Linked DNA regions of Homo sapiens. The protein of the gene in region 1 purifies or fractionates together with the protein of each later gene. This does not show direct contact. Each region holds a gene or a part of one and is shown in the gene's direction. Other genes may lie near its edges. The genes, in order: JARID2 and EHMT1.

Evidence for each region.
Region 2: the proteins of JARID2 (region 1) and EHMT1 purify together in Homo sapiens (affinity purification with western blotting, with the first as the bait; one study listed by BioGRID). This does not show direct contact.

The regions. Positions count from the first base shown.
Region 1 is NC_000006.12:15,497,507-15,501,321, forward strand, and holds part of JARID2 (protein Jumonji), read left to right. Parts: intron 1-3,400; coding exon 3,401-3,815.
Region 2 is NC_000009.12:137,779,328-137,783,142, forward strand, and holds part of EHMT1 (histone-lysine N-methyltransferase EHMT1), read left to right. Parts: intron 1-307; coding exon 308-390; intron 391-2,963; coding exon 2,964-3,070; intron 3,071-3,815. UniProt on the Homo sapiens protein: Histone methyltransferase that specifically mono- and dimethylates 'Lys-9' of histone H3 (H3K9me1 and H3K9me2, respectively) in euchromatin.

The DNA.
Region 1 (3,815 bases):
GGGCGTGGTGGCGGGGGCCTGTAGTCCCAGCTACTTGGAGAGGCTGAGGCAGGAGAATGGCGTGAACCCAGGAGGCGGAGCTTGCAGTGAGCCGAGATCACACCACTGCACTCCAGCCTGGGTGACAGAGTGAGATTCCGTCTCAAAAAAAAAAAAAAAGTATTGAGCTTGGATCTGGGGTGAGCCCCCACTCTGGGTCTGGGCCCCTTGCTTCCCCTGGGCTGTCACCTCCTACCCACAACTGCTGGAGTTAAAGCAGGGGCCGGGGGGCCAGTGGGGAGCGCTGCCCCTCTGGATTCCACACTGGATTATAGAGGCTGGAAGCCCAAGGTCTAGGGGCCAGCAGGGTTGGTTTCTCCCGAAACCAACAAGACCTCCCTCCTTGGCTTGTGCATGGCTGTTTTCTCCCTGTGTCCTCACAGGGTCCTACCTCTATGTGTGTCTGTGTCTTCATCTCCTCTCCTTAGAAGGACATTGGATTAGGGCCCATCCTACTGACCTCTTTCTAACATAATTACCCTTTTGAAGACCCTGTCTCCAAATTCATTCATGTCCTGAGGTACTGGAGGTCAGGGCTTCAACATATGAATTTGGAGGGATCACCATGCAGCCCATAGCCCTCTAGGGTCCTGTAGGCCATTTTTTATCCTGCTCAGCCTTGTCTCTTCTTCCTCTGAGCTTCAGTTTCTCTGGCGATTTTGTCAAGGCCACAGGTCAAGGGATCTGTTGACCTTTTTTCTGAGACCAGGTTTTTTCTGAGACCTTTTTTCTGAGCTCTGGCTGGGGCTGTTGGAAACTTGTCACAGTGGATCCTTAGTGAATGCATATCTGGGCTGTCATGCAGACCCTTGCTCCTCAGGGTGGGTTGCAGGCAGATCCTCCTCTTGGGTTCCCCTGTAGCCCTCCTTCCCTGTCATCCTCTCTTCAGTCCTGCCACTGGGGACACAGGGTGAGGATGAACTTGCCTTGTTAAGGCTAAGTGGATTCTGTGGAGTGAGGTGCATCCAGGTAAGGTTGCAACCCCATCAGTCTAGACCCATGGGAGGAAACAGGCCACACCTCCATTTTGGAGATCCTCAATTTTCAAAGGCATGGAGACGTGTAGCCATCATTTAAGTGTCAGGGATTTGGCAGCAAGATAGGCTTCCAGGCAGGATGGAGGTTTCGTGGTTCCCCTCAGCAGGTGCCTGCCAGGACTGATGCCTGAGTGACAGTCACCTTAACTTGCAAGAGTTCTTGGTTTGTGCTCTGCTGTTGGGAATAGCACGTGATAGGAAGCAGTGCAGGGAGCAGGCTCTGCACACGCGTGCACCCACGCCCGCTGACCACGCCCCATGACTACTTGGGACACAGGATGACTGAGTCAGTGATGGAACCGCACCAAGTCCTCCTGCCTTTGGAGACCTGCAGACAGGAGGGAAACATTCCAAGTTTCCCTCCTCTGCTAGGTGGATGATGGAGCCTCGAGAGCACACTTGACATCGTAGTGACAGCGCCTTTTGTTTAGAGTAGGTTTTTCTTTACCCTCGACTCCCTTACCCTGGGACAAAAGCCATACTGTGCCTCCCTGTGGTGTGCTTATGCTTGTTGCCGTCACCCAGAAGTCTAAGGCGTCTGACATTCTGTCCCAGGGGTACTGACCTGTCTGTGACCCAGCAAGGCCTCAGGGCTGGGGTCTGAGCTCAGCCATCTGACAGTGGTAGAAACTTAATAACTTTGAAGTAATAGCCTAAAATCCACCCCAGCAGATGTGCCTTCTGCCTCTGTGTAGGTTCACTTCCACCGCAGGTCCCAGGGAGCCGCCGTGCCGCTGGCGGGAGTTGGGTGGGGAAGGGGCTCGGCCACGTAGCAGCCTCAAGGCCCTGAGTGGGAGTGATCGCAGCGGATGAGGATTCCATGAAGAATTCTTGCAAGCGCTGTGTGATTTTCAGGTGCTCTTGCGTTATAATCTACTTAGAGTGAAATATGAAAGTGTGGATTTCCTCCCTTCTGTGACCTGTGTTCTGAGTCACTCGGACGGTGGAGGACTTGTTTTGGTTGGGGGACTCGTTTTGGTGCCTACCTCTGTAAGTTGAGACAGTACCCACCTGCCCTCGGAGGAAGAACTCCCGATTGTCAGCCAGAGCCACCGTGAGTCCCACCTGTGACTCTGGGAGTCTGTGAGACCTGGAGTTTGTTGTGGAGTCTCAGTTCTTAGGTCCCTCCTGTCGAGGCTGGGGACAGTTCCCTCATGGATGTTACCCCAACTCCCCTGTTCTCCACAACCACATCAGTCCACTGTCCTGCCATTTAGTGTGAGTGGAATTCAGGCTGCTGTGTCCCCATCCCTGGTCTTGCTGGTGTGCTGGGAACTCGCTCTCTGTGTGTGCTGTGTCTGCCGAGGTGGTTCAGACGCTTCACCTAGTGGGTCCTGTCATGCTTGGTATGTGCAGCGACCCTGCCTGGACTGGATCCGTGCACACTTTACCTTTTATTACTTAAAAACAATATATCCCCACACTCTAAAGATTTAAAACGTTGTTAATTTGTACTTTGTTTAGTATTTTGTTGATGGTTATTTTGGAAAATCTCCCCTACCCCCCTTCCTTTATTTGGCCCGAGGGAGGTTGCTTTCTCCATTCCCATCTAGAAAAGCCACTGGGCGCGCGTTAAAACCTGCCCAGGTTTGATGTGCATTTGCGCTGCTCTGTGGCCTGATCAGGAGGGGCACTGAGCACCAGCTTATGCACTGAGAAGCAGCCCGCTGTCTGGATGGGCGAGGGACGAGGCATAGATGTGCTGCCCTGTGTCCTCACGCAGGTGTTGCTCTTTGCTCTGGAAATCCAGCAGGATGGAAAATAGACTTCCTTTGTGTGAGTGAGTGGGTGGATGGGTGAAGTTGAGTGAGTGAGTGGGTGGGCATTGGGAATTATAGAAGGGGAATTGGGAGTTGGTAACAAGCATGTGTCAAAGCTATTCTAGGTGACGCTGGGCCGTGGGTGCAGCCAGGACCCCTACCCACTCCTCACCAGGGAGCTAGTCTTCTCATGACACCCGCCTCCATGTGACAACACATGTACCAGTACATGGTACACTGGGATGTTCCTCCCTGTATGTCTGTCTGGCCAGCTCGCATCCTTTTCCAGCCAAGCCCCAGCTTAAATGCTGCCTCCTCAGACGCTCCCCACCTAAAATGGTAGTCCCTCGTTCCACCTGCTCTTCGTAGCAAGTGGTCATGACCCATCATTTTGTAACGCCCTTCTCTCTGTGGACCGGGAGTCTGCTGTTCACCACTCTCACCCCAGAGCCTGTCAGAGTCCTGGCTCATAGTAGGAGTTCAAGAAGTACAGGTTGAATGAGGAACATCTTGTTCGTGTCTCTTTCACTAACTGTCCCGTTTTTTTCCCCTTCGCTGTCCCAGGGGGCTGTGAGCTCGACCTGGCCTGCTTTTTCCGGCTGATTAATGAGATGGGCGGCATGCAGCAAGTGACTGACCTCAAAAAATGGAACAAACTAGCAGACATGCTGCGCATCCCCAGAACTGCCCAGGACCGGCTGGCCAAGCTGCAGGAGGCCTACTGCCAGTACCTACTCTCCTACGACTCCCTGTCCCCAGAGGAGCACCGGCGGCTGGAGAAGGAGGTGCTGATGGAGAAGGAGATCCTGGAGAAGCGCAAGGGGCCGCTGGAAGGCCACACAGAGAACGACCACCACAAGTTCCACCCTCTGCCCCGCTTCGAGCCCAAGAATGGGCTCATCCACGGCGTGGCCCCCAGGAACGGCTTCCGCAGCAAGCTCAAGGAGGTGGGCCAGGCCCAGTTGAAGACTGGCCGGCG
Region 2 (3,815 bases), on another chromosome or scaffold:
GCTGGTTCTGTCGTCGTGTTGTGTAAAAGCCTCACAGTGCGTAGTGTTCTCCTGCGGTGACTGGGAACGCAGTTTCTTGTCCGCAGTTTTTACCATGAGATATCTCGACTGGTGGGTTTGCACTTGAGCTTGTGGGGCTGGTGGGCAGACGTCTGCCGGGCCTTCCAGCCTTCAGCTTCATGTGTGGGACGCGGAGCCCCATGAGCTTGAGGGGCTGGTGGGGAGATGTCCGCCGGGCCTTCCAGCCTTCAGCTTCATGTGTGGGATGCAGAGCCCCATGCTGACTGTTGTCTTGTGCTTCCCACAGACCCAAGAAGCTTCGCTTCCACCCAAAGCAGCTGTACTTCTCCGCCAGGCAAGGGGAGCTTCAGAAGGTGCTCCTCATGCTGGGTAAGTGCCTTCCTGCGGCCCGGGCACATGCAGCCGGCCCTGTGGCACTGAAAGAAGCCGAGAGCAGTTGTTACTCCTTCCTCAGGAGGCTGGTCTCGTTTTGGTTTTCTGTTTCTGTGTCTCCGAGTTCTCTGATGAGTGAGAATAGGTTGCCCACTGGTGTTGAGGCTTTTTATGGTGTTCATATCCAGTTACGCAAGATATTAGAACTATTCTCTACGAAGTTCTAATTTTTAAAAAGGAATTGGTATGTGATTATTAAATCAAGCAGAAATAGAGATTAAGGAAAAGCAAAACTAGTGAGTTGTGGCCCTGAGATGTGTGGTGATGACGCTGAGATGTGTGGTGATGACGCTGAGATGTATGGTGATGATGCTGAGATGTGATGACGCTGGGATGTGTGGTGATGACGCTGAGATGTGTGGTGATGACGCTGAGATGTGTGGTGATGACGGCATCACTGAGATGTGTGGTGATGACGCTGAGATGTGTGGTGATGACGCTGAGATGTGATGACGCTGGGATGTGTGGTGATGACGCTGGGATGTGTGGTGATGATGCTGGGATGTGTGGTGATGACGCTGAGATGTGTGGTGATGACGGCATCACTGAGATGTGTGGTGATGACGCTGAGACGTGTGGTGATGACGCTGAGACGTGTGATGACGCTGGGATGTGTGGTGATGACGCTGGGATGTGTGGTGATGACGCTGAGATGTGTGGTGATGACGGCATCACTGAGATGTGTGGTGATGACGCTGAGACGTGTGGTGATGACGCTGAGACGTGTGGTGATGACGCTGGGATGTGTGGTGATGACGCTGAGATGTGTGGTGATGGCATCACTGAGATGTGTGGTGATGACGCTGGGATGTGTGGTGATGACGCTGGGATGTGTGGTGATGACGCTGAGATGTGTGGTGATGACGGCATCTCACTGAGATGTGTGGTGATGACGCCGAGACGTGTGGTGATGACGCCGAGACGTGTGGTGATGACGCCGGTATGTGTGGTGATGACACTGGGATGTGTGGTGATGACGCTGGGATGTGTGGTGATGACGCTGAGATGTGTGGTGATGACGGCATCTCACTGAGATGTGTGGTGATGACGCCGAGACGTGTGGTGATGACGCCGAGACGTGTGGTGATGACGCCGGGATGTGTGGTGATGACGCTGGGATGTGTGGTGATGACGCTGAGATGTGTGGTGATGACGGCATCACTGAGATGTGTGGTGATGACGCTGAGACGTGTGGTGATGACGCTGGGATGTGTGGTGATGACGCCGGGATGTGTGGTGATGACGCCGAGACGTGTGGTGATGACGCCGAGACGTGTGGTGATGACGCCGGGATGTGTGGTGATGACGCTGGGATGTGTGGTGATGACGCTGAGATGTGTGGTGATGACGGCATCACTGAGACGTGTGGTGATGACGCTGAGACGTGTGGTGATGACGCTGGGACGTGTGGTGACGACGCTGAGACGTGTGGTGACGACGCTGGGACGTGTGGTGACGACGCTGGGACGTGTGGTGACGACGCTGGGACGTGTGGTGATGACGCTGAGATGTGTGGTGATGACGGCATCACTGAGATGTGTGGTGATGACGCTGAGACGTGTGGTGATGACGCTGAGACGTGTGGTGATGACGCTGGGATGTGTGGTGATGACGCTGGGATGTGTGGTGATGATGCTGAGATGTGTGGTGATGACGCTGGGATATGCGGTGATGATGCTGAGATGTGTGGTCATGACGCTGGAATGTGTGGTGATGACGGCAGTCGATGTTTCACCTGTGCTGATCGCAGCAGCTGTGGTGTGGACAAAGTAGGCTTCAGCTATAGGTATTTTATAACAGGCAAACCGATTGCATTAGATTTCTAATACGCAAAAGCATACTTGTTAGAGAGCCTTCCCAGTGATAATTTGGTCTCTGAGCTCATAGCTTTAGGCTTGATTTCTCTGACGTTCATCGTCTCTGGGTTGAAAAGGATGATTAAGAAGCCCTTTACTGGACAGTACGTCAAGTAAAAAGAAGTGAAACTATTTGCTTTTAAAGAAAGGTTTATTTATGTTGACCAGCAGTTTTAATCATTTTGTCATGGACTTCACAGGACACCTGTGAAGGTCACCTCACTGCTCCGTTGCTCACCGTCCTCTCAGACCTCCTGGGAATTGACCGATGCTCAGGCCTCTGTCCCCGGCCTTGCTTGCTCCCCTAGGGTGTGTCTGCCCTGGTCAGCCGCCTCACTGGGCCTGGGGCGGCCATGGCCAGGCCACACAGAAACACAGAAGGAACCTCAGAGTTAGAGCAGGGTGGTAAAGGGAAGAGCGTGCCTTGCCGAGTTAGTTCTGACAGAGGGACCTGCCTGTTCAATTCCGCAGGAGACTAGCACACTCAAGTCTCAAGTCCAGAGGATGGTGCTGTGGGCGGGTTCCGGCGTGGCTCGAGGTGGCTGTTTATGTGGAGGATGGTCATTTGTGAGTGCTTGCCAGCCATCGTGACAGTCCTGAGCTGGAGTCTGTGGCTACATCTGAAATCATTAATAAAACTGTGTTTGTTCACAGTGGACGGAATTGACCCCAACTTCAAAATGGAGCACCAGAATAAGCGCTCTCCACTGCACGCCGCGGCAGAGGCTGGACACGTGGACATCTGCCACATGCTGGTTCAGGTGCGGCGGCACGGCGCCCTCCTAGGGCTCTTCACCTGCTCTCTTTTATTTTTACCAAAGTAAAATCATACCACGTTCGCGGTTCTTCCAGTGTAAGAGTTCCGTAGTGCTGTGAATCGGGCACAGAGTCAGCTTTTCTGCCCCCGAGTCCTGCAGGTGGATCAGTGCTTCCCGCTGTTTCTTCCGGCATTTACCACGGCCTTTGAGAAGAGCATGCCGCCATTTGGCTGTTTCTTGATTTGCTTTCTTTGGTTTTGGTTTTGGTTCTTCACACTCATGACGTCCCTCTGGGGGAGCCAAGCACTCGCAGAGGCACGGACGCCCCTCCCCCAGCCCCGTTGACTGGCTCCCATTTTGTTTAGATCAGATCGTGTGAGCATTTTCAAGCTGAACCACGTCGTCTACAGGGTATGTTGTGTCTGTCGTTAATCACTGGCTTGTGTTTCTGTTGGTTGAGTTGACTCTGCCACCTGCTAATTTATTCTGAACCATCTGAACGCTGCCCGCTTGTCTCTGGGTTCAGACACACGACGCTGTTTGTCCCCCTGTGACGCCCCTTCCCTGATCCCGGTGTTGGATCCCCTGTTTCTCAAGTGCCAGGTTTGAGTCTGGTGCAGTCTGACTTCTGATCCTTTGTGTGTGACCTATTATTTCTGGAGACTTTAGGAACTTTCCTTGAACCCCACTGGTCTGAAGTTGTACCTCATTGTAATGTGGGTCTTTTTAGATCCACTGGGGCATTTGG